Linked DNA regions of Homo sapiens. The protein of the gene in region 1 purifies or fractionates together with the protein of each later gene. This does not show direct contact. Each region holds a gene or a part of one and is shown on either strand. Other genes may lie near its edges.

Evidence for each region. Proteins that work in one complex are often made in the same cells at the same time.
Region 2: the proteins of TTC17 (region 1) and TRPC4AP purify together in Homo sapiens (co-immunoprecipitation; one large-scale study listed by IntAct). This does not show direct contact.
Region 3: the proteins of TTC17 (region 1) and C1QTNF9 purify together in Homo sapiens (co-immunoprecipitation; one large-scale study listed by IntAct). This does not show direct contact.

The regions. Positions count from the first base shown.
Region 1 is NC_000011.10:43,399,668-43,404,636, forward strand, and holds part of TTC17 (tetratricopeptide repeat protein 17 isoform 1 precursor), read left to right. Parts: intron 1-220; coding exon 221-381; intron 382-1,778; coding exon 1,779-1,891; intron 1,892-4,330; coding exon 4,331-4,477; intron 4,478-4,969. UniProt on the Homo sapiens protein: Plays a role in primary ciliogenesis by modulating actin polymerization.
Region 2 is NC_000020.11:35,085,439-35,089,809, forward strand, and holds part of TRPC4AP (short transient receptor potential channel 4-associated protein), read right to left. Parts: intron 1-4,371. UniProt on the Homo sapiens protein: Substrate-recognition component of a DCX (DDB1-CUL4-X-box) E3 ubiquitin-protein ligase complex required for cell cycle control.
Region 3 is NC_000013.11:24,308,134-24,313,248, forward strand, and holds the start of C1QTNF9 (complement C1q and tumor necrosis factor-related protein 9A precursor), read left to right. Parts: upstream 1-1,446; 5' UTR 1,447-1,483; intron 1,484-5,115. UniProt on the Homo sapiens protein: Probable adipokine. Activates AMPK, AKT, and p44/42 MAPK signaling pathways.

The DNA.
Region 1 (4,969 bases):
GCAAGACCCCATTTTTTAAAAAAGTTGTATTTAAAGGAAGAATTTCACATTTATCTTTTTGCCCTAGTATTCTTGAACTGGTGATACAGGGTTGTATGTTAAATAAAAGGAAAACACACAGTAATTGTTGCTGAGAACCAGAAAAATCTGTGCATTTAAGTGGGTTTAAAATTTATGATTTTATAGCTCTAACTTTTTCCTGGTATTAAAAAATGTTAAGATCTCTCCAGCGAACACTGAATGAGTTAAAAGAGTATCAAAAGCAGCATGACCACTACCTGAGACAGCAGGAAATCCTAGAAAAACATAAACTGATTCAGGAGGAGCAAATCTTAAGAAATATCATTCATGAGACTCAGATGGCAAAAGAGGCACAATTAGGTAAGTAGTGACTCCAAGTAATTGAAGACAGGTTAGGAAATTCACTTTTAGCATGCTTTACTATCATAACTTTCTTGTAGCCTTAAAGCAGTGTGAAGTTGTGTTTATGACTTCCCTACATCTCGAAAGCATGATTCATCACTGTGGGTATACCAGGAGGCCTGGGGAGCTGGTTTGGTCTACCTTGCTTTTTTCAAATTTACATTTTGAAATAAAAAACAAGTCTTGTAGATCCTAGAAGTCTTAACAGTTATTTGCATTCTGTGTTCAACATCAGTTTTTTTTCCTACCCTAATATGCATATCAGTCTCCTGGAGATCTTGTTGAAATGCAGATTATGATTCAGTAGGTCTGAATTGAGGCCTGAGAGTCTGCCTTCCTAATAAGCTCCCAGGTGATGCTTGTTGCCGCAGGTCTAAAAACTCTGCACTATGGGTAACAAGGCCTTACACTAAGTGAATACAAGCCAGACCCACCCTACAAACAACCCATCCATACTCCTTTTTTTCTTGCTCTCTTAAAAACAGTGTTTTAGAAGTAAAATTTTAGACTGGAATTCTTAACCTGGGTCAATGGATTAGTTTCAGGGGGTTCTGAAATCCTCTCCAAAATTATATGTAGAATTGTGTATGTGTCCAATTTTATTTTTCTGGGAAGAGGGTATCTAGCTTTTATTAAAATCTCTCAAGCATCTGTGATCCATAAAAATAGAACCACTGGTTTATAGGAACTTGGGTTGGCATGAGAACAATGATTTGGTTATATCTAGAATGTTTTGTTTCTAATGACAAGGGAGCAGATCTGACAACTCAATAACAGAGAATAAATTAATAGAATCTCTTAATTATACCCTTCTCCCTTGATAAGTATGTTGGTCAAGAAAGCCTCTTAACCTTTGGCACTTAGCTGTGACCATTTATAGTTTATTTTACAATTCCCTTAACAAGTTTTCTTTGCTATTATGAGTGTAAAGAGTATGCTCAGTCTTTGGAATTACTTACTGCCCAGTATATTGAAATGTAACCAGAGCTCTTATATATGCATTTGAAACAAAATTATGAAGTATGTAAAGCAAATTCTCTCCAGAAAGATGGCCAAAGTCTCTTAAAACGATGTAATCACTAGATTTTACAATCACAGACTATAATTGCTGAAAGATACCTCAGTAATCATCTAGTGGAGTCCCTTTGTTTTTGTAGGTGGAAAAACTGGGACTTCTTAGAATGATTTATTTGATTAACCATTAATGAATATTTCTCTATATAAGTACGTCCTACGTAAGTAGCCTGCTAGGCTCTGAGGGATACAGGGTTGATACTAAATGACTTAGTCTAAGAAAATCACATTGGCATTGTTGACCTTGCTCATCATTTGTGTAATTTCCTTTCTTATTCCAGGAAATCATCAGATATGCCGACTGGTCAACCAGCAGCATAGTTTACATTGCCAGTGGGACCAGCCTGTACGCTATCATCGTGGAGATATCTTTGAAAATGTGGACTATGTTCAGGTCTTTTTCTTGGTCCAGTCTAATTCTTATAAACGTTTGCTTTATAAAGATTTTTTAAAACTTTTGTTTTTCCTCTTGATTCTTTGTATATTTGATCCCTAAAATTTGTGATTGTCATTTAGATCTTTAAGATTTTGAGGCTGGGCACAGTGGCTCACGCCTGTAATCTCAGCACTTAGGGAGGCAGAGGCAGAAGGATCACGAGCCCAGGAGTTCAAGACCAGCCTGGGTAACATGGTGAAACCCCATCTCTACAAAAACATATATAAATTGGCCAGGTATGGTGGCATGCACCTGTAGTCCCAGCTACTCGGGAGGCTGAGGCGGGAGAATCATCTGAGCTCTGGAGGTCAAAGCTGTAGTGAACCCAGATCATGCCATTGCACTCCAGCCTGGGCAACAGAGCAAGACTGTGTCTCAAAAAATAAATAAATAAATAAATAAATAAATAAATAAATAAATAAATAAATAAAGAGCGAGAGAGAGATTTTGATTATCTGTTATGTTGTTATGTTTACGAAGTCAGATTTTATAGGGAGTACTCAATAACTCCATGGATGCTTTCTATTTCTTAAAGTACCATCTAAATATTTATATGCACATGCATTTGATTCTTTTCTCTTTTACCATGGGAGCTAGAATTGGGCTATTATTATTATTGAACTCAAAGCTTTCATCTCCCCACTTTCCCTTTTAGAGTAAGACCTATTTAAAATTTGAGAGCAACCATGCTATTTGTTTCCTGAAGTAATCAGTCCAATTATATTGCCTCAACCAATACCACCAACAAAATGCTCATTATCAACAGAAAATCTTTATTAAGCCCACTGCTAGGTGTGTACTTTCTCTCACTTTCTGTCGCTGTATATACACACGTGTATACACACACACATACACATATACAATCCTAATCTATCTAGTTGGGAAGAACTAACACATGTAATGATACCAGATAGTATATAATAGATGTTGAATAAGTGGTACAGACAGCAAGTACAGCCAGAATTCTGAGTATAAAAAAAAAAGATTCAAACTCTGAAACTTTTTGAGCACTGACATGATGCTCAAAAGAAATGATCATTGGAGCATTTTGGATTTCACATTTTTTGATTGGGATGCTTAACAGGTAAGTGTAATAAAATATTGCAAAATCCAAAAAAATCTCAAATCTGAAATACTCCTGATTAAGCATTTCAGAAAACTGATACTCAACCTGTATTAGAAATAAAACATTTATTCTATCTTAGAGAAAACTCATCATGTCTAATCGTAGATACAGAAATTTCCAGCAATAACTACTTAAGATAACTAAGAGATTAGGAGAGCATCTATAGGAGGACAAACCACAAAAACTTAGAACTCTTTAATCTGGAAAAATCCAGACTGCATTGGGAAAAAATAAGAGACAAAAATTAAGAAGCCATTTTAAAGGGGAAATAGTGATAGGGACCAAAAGCTTCCTATGAGTATTGTAAACCAGCTCCCAGCAATATCTCATGTTTGGTTTCCAAGGGAAAAAATAAAGAAGACCAGATTCACACCCTCTGGGATTATAGCTCTTTATCTTAAAACCAAGCATTTTAAAGGGAAGAAGGGGGATGTTTAGAAATGAAATAGATTGAAACCCAATACACCTTTTGGACTTTTTGATGGTCTCAAGACCGATCATTTGAAGGAGTGTAGCTTCCAATAGTCTATATTCATAAAATTGTATCACCACTATATAGTGAAAGAATCCATTCCTGTTCACAAAGACCTAGAGCTACAAATTCGTCATATTCATTCCTTTTCCTTTTGTCTTTCCTACCCCATCCCATCCCCAGTCCCATTCTCATTATCTAGCAAGGTTTCAGAAATACACAAGCATCTTTGTAAGTATATCCAACATTGTTCCACCTTGCTTTGAAGGAAGGCTGTATATGTTTGTGTTCTCTCATCTAGGTTACCCTTTCACCCTCAAAACTTTTCTTTGTAATTGATTGCACAACAGTCTGTAATCCTTAAGTGATAGTTATAGAACCCTTAAGAATACTTTCTTAAGTTCCCTCGCCTCTACCCACACACGGCACACCAATTTTAGAGTGGTGAGCATTTTAGTGTAGGAAGAAAAGGGGAATAATGAACCAGATTTCTCAATTAGCTAATTATTAACCTAAAGAGACTAAATCATAAAAATGAAGCAAAGGGACAGGAAAACGACCTATGCCATTTTTCTCATACTCCAATGGCAAAGTTATTGAAAGTTGTTAACTATGTATTATCCATGAAAGAATATCGTTGGGGCATAGTTCTTAAAAGATCCAATTGCTTTATTACTGAGCTACTTTCTGATTTTCTACTAATTTTGAATATTCACTCGCTTTTTTGGTGTGAGTTAAATTATAATCACAACTCCTTTTCCACTTTCAATTTGATTGAACTTTTTGTTTCATTTTCTAGTTTGGTGAGGATTCATCAACCTCCAGTATGATGTCTGTGAACTTTGATGTTCAATCAAATCAGAGTGATATCAATGATTCGGTCAAGTCTTCTCCCGTAGCCCATTCTATTCTCTGGATTTGGGGCAGGGACTCTGATGCATATAGGGTAAGTTAATAGAGGATGACGAAGCAGTTTTCTCAAACTGGCAAGATCCATTAAAGCAGTGGCCCTCAACCTCACTGATTAATATGGCCTCTATGACTGTTCAGATTAGTTCAGCAAACGTGTAGTACATTTCTATTAAATGGAAGCTATTCTGCTAGGTAGTGAATGAGTAAGATGCAATTTCTGCCTTGAGTTTTTCCCAGTCAAGTAGAGCAGATAGACACCCTGATTTCAGTTCAAAGCTTTATCCTCTGAGTATTATTACCAACCTTAACAAGTTTCTAAACTTGACCCAAGCGTATGTTTTTATATACTTCACTTAATCGGCATTCTTTTATTGAACTCCCACCTGTGTGCCAGGCTAATGCTGGCAGTATAATAGATAAGCCCCCTTGCTCTTCTGGAGCCTACATTCTGGTAGATGATACAGACAATAAACAAGTTAGTACATGTGCCTGTCTAGACTAGCTAAGAAAGAATTGTAGGTTAGCT
Region 2 (4,371 bases), on another chromosome or scaffold:
TTATCTCTACAAAAAAATACAAAAATGAGCTGCGTATGGTGGCATGCGCCTATAGTCCCAGATACTCGGGAGGCTGAGGTGGGAGGATTGCTTGAGCCCAGGAGGCGGAGGTTTCAGTAGTTTTTTTTCACCACTACACTCCAGCCTGGGCAACAGAGCAAGACCCTGTCTAAAAAAAAAAAAAAAAATCATTAGAATTTTGTTTTCCTTGTGAACAGCTCAGCACTGTGACAAAAGTGCCACCATTCAGTCATCTTCCCAGTTGAATTACTGGCAGGTATCACATGGGTTTTCTCTTGAAGTACTTGTGGTTTAACAGTTTACAGCAGTGATAATCTCTTACATCATACCCTCTAAACTGTCAACCTGTTTAGCAAATATGACATTTCTAGACATTTACAGTTTCCACTGATTTTATTGTTTTTAAAAATAACTAAAGGCTAAATTCCATGAAGATAACTGTGCATCTTATTTGTTTCTTTAATCCTAAATGTAAGACATCTAATGCCTCAAAATACCACACTAAATGCAAGGGTCTCGCGCAATCTCACTGCAACCTCCGTCTCCTGGGCTCAAGTGATCCTCCCACCTCAGCCCTGCCCCCTTCCCCCTCCCAGCCCCCCACACCACCACCACTGCCACCAAGTAGCTGGGATTACAGGCACGCACCACCACGCCCGGATAATTTTTTGTATTTTTAGTAAAGATGGAGTTTCACCCATCTTGCCCAGGTTGGTCTTGAACTCCTGAGCTTAAAGAATCCGTCTAGCTCGGCCTCCCAAAGTGCTAGAATTACAGGTGTGAGCCACCGCACCCAGCCTAAATAGATATCTTAAAGGATAATAAAGATAAAATACCTTGTTGGGTTATTCTGACAATACATGTTAACCACTGAATACTTTTGTGTCCTTTAATGGGGTATGATTCAGTAAAATTAGGAGCAAATTTAAGGGCTTGTGAATACGAAAACTTCCCATTGAAATGAATGGCATATGTGTGTGTGTGTGTGTGTGTGTGTGTGTGTGTGTGTGTGTGTGTATGTGTGTGTATATATATATGTGTATATATATGTGTGTGTGTGTATATATGTGTGTGTGTGTGTGTGTGTGTGTGTGTGTGTGTGTGTGTGTGTGTGTGTATATATATATGAATAAGACTTTATCCTAATCAGGAGTTTTTCAGTATCAAATTACCTTTGAAAAGCCAGGTAAGATTTGTTTGACTTAAATGCCTAGGTTTCATAAATACTAATGGTTAGAATGAGGCTAAAACAAGTAGTGCCTAATGAAATTTTTTTTAAAAGTTAGTGAATCTGGCTGGGCACGGCGACTCACATCTGTAATCCCAGCACTTTGGGAGGCTGAGGTGGGTGGATCAAGAGATCAAGAGTTTGAGACCAGCCTAGCCAGCATGGTGAAACCCTGTCTTTACTAAAAATACAAAAAGTAGCCGGGCATGGTGGCACATGCCTATAGTCCCAGCTACTCAGGAGGCTGAGGCAGGGGAATCGCTTGAACCCGGGAAGCGGAGGTTGCAGTGAGCCGAGACTGTGCACTGCACTCCAGCCTGGGCAACAGCACGAGACTCCATCTCACAAAAAAAAGAAGTCAGCCAGGCGCAGTGGCTCACACCTGTAATCCCAGCACCTTGGGAGGCCGAGGTGGGCGGATCATGAGGTCAGGAGATCGAGACCATCCTGGCTAACACGGTGAAACCCCGTCTCTACTAAAAATACAAAAAAAAAAAAAAAATTAGCCAGGCGTGGTGGCGGGCACCTGTAGTCCCAGCTACTCGGGAGGCTGAGGCAGGAGAATGGCATGAACCTGGGAGGCGGAGCTTGCAGTGAGCTGAGATTGCACCATTGCCCTCCAGCCTGGGCAACAGAGCGAGACTCCATCTCAAAAAAAAAAAAAAAGTCAGTGAATCTAAAGAAAAAATATAAAGTAAGGAACACTCAGGGGCATTTAGATATGCCAATAATCATAAAGGAAGCAACGACTGCCATGTGGGAAATATAACAGCATCCCACAACCCAGTCTGTCACCAGATTGCCAAACTGAAGGGCATCCAGGGATGGCGGGTCATGACCTGTAATGTGAGCTGCACTATCCTAGAGCCCAGCGTTTACTCAGTCTATCCTTTCCTTCAACTCGTACTGATCATTTGGGGCCTTGTACGCCCATGGTAAGGAATCCAGAATTGATTCTATCAACTGCAATGAGATGAGGCTGGAGAGTTTTAAGCAAAGGATTTATAAGATCTGATTTGCATTAAGCATCAAATGTGCTGATGAATATGAAAAGGCTCAGTAAACTCCAAAGTATCACCCCAGCATATTTTATTGCCTTGACAGAGGGCAGAACAAAACGAAGGGAAGAAAATAAAGCAAACTAAAATCCAAGTAGAATTGACCCATTACAAATTATGTGGCCAGTAGTCATGACTCAGGCTTCCCTTATGCCCCATTTAGGGAGATGGAGAAGATCAGGTCTGATGGAAAAGGGAGAGGATTTTGGCTTTCGACATACTAAGTTTGAGATGCCCATTAGACATCAAAGTGGAAATGCTAGAAGGCAATTGGATATACCTACCCATCCAGAGCTAAAAGGAGAAACACGAATGGAAACAGAAACTTAGGATCCGTCAGCGTATAGAGCAGTTATTAATAACAATACAAGCTAATCTTTATAGCAGTAAGCTATGTACTTATAGCTGAGAAAGTATGTTTCAGTCACTATTTTAAGTGCTTTATATGTACAACTCACTTGGTCCTCACCACAACCTTGGAAGGTCAGGTCCTATGATACTTACTTTACAAATAAATAAACTGAGGCATAAACAGATTAAATAACTTGCCTAAAGACACATAGTAAGTAAATACCAGAGCTAGGTTTCAAACCTAGGTAATCTGACTCTGGAACTCTTTAAAGCCATGAGATTGCTTGGCAAGTACAGACAGAAATTAGACTGAGGACACAGTATTTCAATTTAAGCAATTTCCTGAATATCAAATGGCTGGCAAGGTTTCAGGCTCTGCAGATACAATGAAAAATAAGACACAGTCTCTTCAGGAAGCCCAGTCTAATTAACTACTAGCTGAGAGCAACTATTTACTAAACAACTATTCCTATATGCCACACTGGCTACGCTTTTAAAACATATTATTTCACTTAATCCTCCTAACAACTTTATGGGATAGATGTTATCATCACCTCTTTAGAAATAAGGAAACTGAAGTTAAGAGAGGTTAAATAACTTAATCTTGGTCACCCTGCTAGGATTCAATTCAGGTCCACCTTACTTTAAAATCTGATTTTTTTTTCCAAGGAAATTCCATCACATGCTATACCACAGATGATCCTTGAGGACATTATGTTAAGTAAAATAAGCCAGTCACAAAAAGACAAATACTGTATTACTATACTGGGGTTATCTAAAGTAGTCAAACTCACAAAAACAGAAAGGAGAAGAATGGTTACCAAGGACTGGGAGGGAGAAATGGGAAGTTGTTCAATGGTAGTTTCAGATTTGCAAGATGAAAAAGTTCTGGAAATCTGTTTCACAACAATGGGAATATACTTCACATTACTTAACTATACACCTTTTTTTTTTAAGATACAGGGTTTCACCATGTTGCCCAGGCTGGTCTCAAACTCCTGGGCTCAAACAATCCGCTCACCTCAGCTTCCCAAAGTGTTGGGATTACAGGTGTAAGCCACCACACTGGGCCTGACCTATACACTTATAAATGGTTAAGATGGTAAATTTTATGTTTACATATATATATTTATATATGTATATAGTTTGAGGCAGGGTCTCATTCTGTTGCCCAGGCTGCAGTGTAATGGTGTGATCATGGCTCACTGCAGCCTTGACTTGCCAGGCTCAAGCGATCTTCCCACCTCGGGTTCCTGAGCAGCTGGGACTACAGGCATGCATTTCCACACCTGGTTAATGTTTTTTTTTTTTTTTTTTGTAGTAGAGCTGGGGCTCCACCACACTGCCCAGGCTTGACTCAAACTGGCTCAGGTGATCATCCCATCTTGGTCTCCCAAAGTGCTGGGATTACACACATGAGCCAATGTACCTGGCCTATATTATATATTTGTTTACTACAATGAAAAAATTTTGGCTAGGCGCAGTGGCTCACACCTGTAATCCCAGCACTTTGGGAGGACAAGGCAGGGGGATCATGACGTCAGGAGTTGGAGACCAGCCTGACCGACATGGTGAAACCCCATCTCTACTAAAAATACAAAAAGTAGCCAGGTGTGGTGGCACACGACTGTAATCCCAGCTACTCAGGAGGCTGAGGCAGAATTGCTTGAATCCGGGAGACGGAGGATGCAGTGAACCGAGATTGCGCCACTG
Region 3 (5,115 bases), on another chromosome or scaffold:
GGAGGCCCGAGGCTGTGCTTCCGTCGCTGGCTCTGAGGCAGAGGTCCAGGCCGGCAGGCTGCCCAGGTGGTCCTGTCTCAGAGCTCTCCGGGGCGCAGAGGCGCGGGAAGCGGGGAAGGGCCGGGCAGCGAGACGGGTGTCCCCAGCAGGAGGTCGGGGACCCGTCGCGCGTTCCGTCGGGGCCGCCTGCGGTGCAGGGGTCAGAGACCAGCCACGCGAGCAAGAGGGAGCCCGGCCAGAACTGCTGAGAGCCCCCAGCGGAGCTGGGACTCAGGGGCTCCTTGCGTTTAGCCACCAAGAGTGGGGGCAGGCTGCGGGGTGCCGGGGAGAAGCCAGATCTCACTCATTTTACACCGACTAATTAGATCCCGCCGCCCACCTGGGACCACGGCATTGTCATGTCCGCTGCACTGACGGGGAAATTGAGGCACGGGGGCGAGTAAGGCGGGAGAGGGAGTCGGCGCCGCCGAGCTGGGGCGAGCCCCGCACCCACCCGTACACTCGGCCTCTGCCCCTGCTCTGTGCGTGGGCTCCTGCTCTGTGCGTGGCCTCGCCGCCGAGCTGGGGTGAGCCCCGCACCCACCCGTACACCCGGCCTCTGCTCCTGCTCTTTGCGTGGCCTCCTGCTCTGTGCGTGGCCTCTGCTCCTGCTGCGTGCACTGCGGCATCTCGGGAAACCGGGCTGGGCTCCTCTGTCCTCTGGAAGCTACTGTAAGTTTTAGATAAATGTTACTACTAGACACGAGGAAAGTGAGTCCATGATTACTGGCATTGAACAAATGGTTGCACCGCGTTCTCCGTGGTAGGTGGAGTGTGTGATTGTGAGAGGGGAATGGACACTGAATCCTTACCTACACAAATGCCTAAACTCGTAAGGCATTACGACACACCCATCTGAAAATCTAATTAAGCGGTAGGAATTCTAATGGTCCGGGATCCAAATGAGACCCAGCCACTTAACAGTTAGCAGCCTTCAGTTTTGTCCTGTTGCCCGTAATTACCCCAAGGTCAGGGAGAAGCACTGAAGCAAAGGCATGAACATCACTTTGAAAAAGAAAGGAGTTAATGGGTGCAGCACACCAACATGGCTCATGTATACATATGTAACAAACCTGCACGTTGTGCACATGTACACTAGAACTTAAAGTATTATATATATATATATATATATATATGAAAGAAACCTGCCTGGGGCACTCCTTCCTTCAGACTCCCCTTGAAAGTATTCCCTCATTTCATTCAAAAGGATTTAACTTTTCTAAACTAAGTGGTGCTGGTAGAATATGCTACCTGATTTACGTGTTGCTGTAATTCTTGAAGCTCTTCCAAGACATCTTGGCCTTCCTCTGTTCCCTCCCCTTCCTGCTATTTTGCAGACATATCCACTGGGGAATTGTATGGCAGGAAGGCTGATTTTATTTAGCTGGCCCTTGATTCTTGGTTTGCACAGTATCTGGGTCCAGCCTGCAGCCCTAGGGTCCAGGTAAGTTCATCAGGAAAGGATTTCTTTACATTCAATTTAAGCCATCTAGGTCCTAAAACAACGCTTATATTATCTGTGGGATAATCCTGCTTAGTTATTTGCAAAATAGTCAGATGTCTATACAGTTTTGGGTAGGAAAGGGGTAAGCCGCTTTCAAAATTCATTCTTGAGGAAGAGGCTAAAGAGGAGATAAAAGCAGATTTTGAAATTCTTCTGCTGGAACTCTGCAATTGGCTGGGAGGAGAGAGAAAAACCATAGAATAAGTCATAAGAATAGTGGGCTTTTTTTCTTTTTTTCAGATGTAGTCTTGCTCTGTCGCCCAGGCTGGAGTGCAGTGTCATGATTTCAGCTCACTGCAACCTCGCCTCCCGGGTTCAAGCAATTATCTGCCTCAGTCTCCCGAGTAGCTGGGATTACAGACATGGGCCACCACACCCTGCTAATTTTTGTATTGTTAGTAGAGATGGGGTTCCACCATCTTGGCCAGGCTGCTCTTGAACTCCTGACCTTATGATCCAACCGCTTTGGCCTCCCAAAGTGCTGGGATTTTTTTTGAGACAGAGTCTCACTCTGTTGTCCAGACTGGAGTGCAGTGGCAGGATCTCAGCTCACTGCAAGCTCCGCCTCCCGGGTTCACACCATTCTTCTGCCTCAGCCTCCTGAGTAGCTGGGACTACAGGAGCCTGCCACCGCGCCTGGCTACTTTTTTTTTTTTTTTTGTATTTTTAGTAGAAACGGGGTTTCACTGTGGTCTCGATCTCCTGACCTCGTGATCCGCCTGCCTCGGCCTCCCAAAGTGCTGGGATTACAGGCATGAGCCACCACGCCCGGCCTATGATGGATCTTTTTAAGAGAGCTTTCTAGAGAAGCTTATAGATTATTTTGCACAAATTTTAATGTGTACTTTTTTTTCCTGATCAGGTTCATCATATTCAGATTGTACACATTTTCATTTTTATGGCTATGCTAATTTACAGTGCAGGAAAAAAATAACTGTCAAGATATGTTGAAGAAGGCTGGGCGCGGTGGCTCACACCTGTAATCCCAGCACTTTGGGAGGCTGAGGCGGGTGGATCATGAGGTCAGGAGATCAAGACCATCCTGGCTAACAAGGTGAAACCCCGTCTCTACTAAAAAACAAAAAATTAGCCAGGCGTGGTGGTGGGCGCCTGTAGTCCCAGCTACGCGGGAGGCTGAGGCAGGAGAATGGCGTGAACCCAGGAGGCAGAGCTTGCAGTGAGCCGAGATCGCGCCACTGCACTCCAGCCTGGGCAACAGAGCGAGGCTCTGTCTCAAAAAAAAAAAAAAAAAAAAAAGATATGTTGAAGAAATGTATAAAGTGTGTAATATAGAGAGTGCATGGAAGACAATATATTCGATGAAGGCAGCCTAGAGCTATTTTGACTCTTAGATCGTCAGATCCGGGAGGGCATTCGTCCTTTCCAGTGCATGCAGGAGGAAGCTGAGGCTCTGAGGTTTGGAAACCCAGGAGATATCACTCAGCTGATTTCTAGCAGGTTTACATTAAATCTTAGTTTTGGAGAGTTAAGAATCTTGAGGAGTGATAACCTTGGCTGTAGAATTAAGGATATGATGTTCTTGGAGAAAATTAATCAGGAAGAGGGCACTGGGTGACCATTTATCAAGAGATTCTTTAGCAAAGGACAGATATAGGTAAAGAATCGGAGAATGAGTCAGAAATAAGTGAACTAAATAAGAACACTATTTTGGGGGGACTAAAAAACATTAACTTCAAAGTTATTTGCAGTCTGTGTCCCTTTGCCCTGACCATGCCAGTATGTCTGGCTCATGCGGTCACAGCATTCTGCAGAATGATGGCCTCTATTCTCTATACATACATATGATATCAATGTATAGAGATCTTGTCTTGATTTGTCCAAGGCAGTGACTGTTGTCGCTTTTTACATATATTACTGGGAGGGTTGTATGCCCAGTGAGTCCCCAGCAGCTGTCACTCTGGCTGACTACAGATGTCTGCAAGCCTCCTCACTTCTGAAGAGCGGCCGCACCTTGGGCAGCGCATGCCTTGAATTAGGATGTGGGCTCAGCTGTGTGTCAAGACCCCAAATAACAGTGGCTTATGCAAGATAGAAGTCTATTTCTGTTTCATATGCTTATGTCAAAGATGTGCTGGCAGGTCTGGTCTGTGGAGTCATCTGAGGCCAGGGGTTTTTCTATCCCCAAATTGTTGCCCTCCTTCAAGGAGTCCCACATGGTTCACCATGCCATGCACACCCCCCCACAGGAAGCGGGAAAGGGCACCCCCTTACCCTTTAAGGCCGGTCATTGCACACAATTACACGTCTCACTTTTGCTCATCCCCATGGCCCGTAATCTAGCTCATGGTCATACCCAGGCTGCAAGGGAGGCTAGGGAGTGCAGTCTATCATGGGCCCCTAGAAGCCCAGCTAAAATTTCTATTACTCTGGATGAAGGTGAGAAGGGGTGTTGGAGATTACTAGCAACTCCACGAAAGCACTGACAAGGATCAGAGTTGATACCCAGTCACCTTCCCAAGTGATGGTCCACACACAGTTGGAACCAGGATAGTATTTCTTGCATGCCTGCATTGATTCATTCAACAAATACTTGACTGAAAATAAGGAAGTAGAAAAATGCAGTCACCATCTTCATAAAGCTCTAACCCAGGTTGGTGCCTACTAAGTGATCATTAGTCTAGGTGTGGTGTACAGAGTAAGTGGGGACTGGGGAGGACAGTAATTCAGATGAGAGAGAGAGTGGATGATTGCAGGGAAAGATGGGAGACAGAAGAGGCTCCTAGCTCTAGTGCCTTCTGGGAAAAGACCAGACCCAGAAATTAAAAGTCAAGAGTGTAACTGTAGTTGAACTAATGAAACTGAGGGTCCAACCCATAGCTTTGTGAGAGGCACAAATGTAATTTTTTATTTTTCAAAATAACATTAATATAATTTCTTCTATATTCCTTGTGCAAATCCTCAACCTTCTACATTAAAGAAGAGGCTAAATAGGAGGTATAAACTTGCTAAAATTTCTTATTAAAAAATAGTGCCAAGCGGCCGTGTGCAGTGACTCACACCTGTAATCCCAGCACTTTGGGAGGCCGAGGTGGGCGAATCACAAGGTCAGGAAATCGAGACCATCCTGGCTAACATGGTGAAACCCCGTCTCTACTAAAATACAAAAAATTACCCGGGCATGGTAGTGGGTGCCTGTAGTCCCAGCTACTCGGGAGGCTGAGGCAGGAGAATGGTGCGAACCCGGGAGGCAGAGCTTGCAGTGAGCCAAGATCGCGCCACTGCACTCCAGCCTGGGCGACAGAGCGAGACTCTATCTCAAAAAAAAAAAAAAAGAAAAAAAAAATAGTGCCAACCTAGGTGGTGACCACGTCTCTAATCCCAGCTATTCAGAAGGCTGAGGCAGGAGGACCACTTAAGCCTAGAAGTTCGAGTCCAGCCTGGGCAACATTCATGAGACTGTATCTCTATAAACAAACAAACAAACAAACAAATAAAACAGAAATAGTGGCACAACTTACTTTGCTACGTATTTGGGAGAACGCATATTAGTTAATCAAAATCATTTGCTGAAGGTTGTCTACATGCTGTATAAACAAGCTAGATAGACTCTA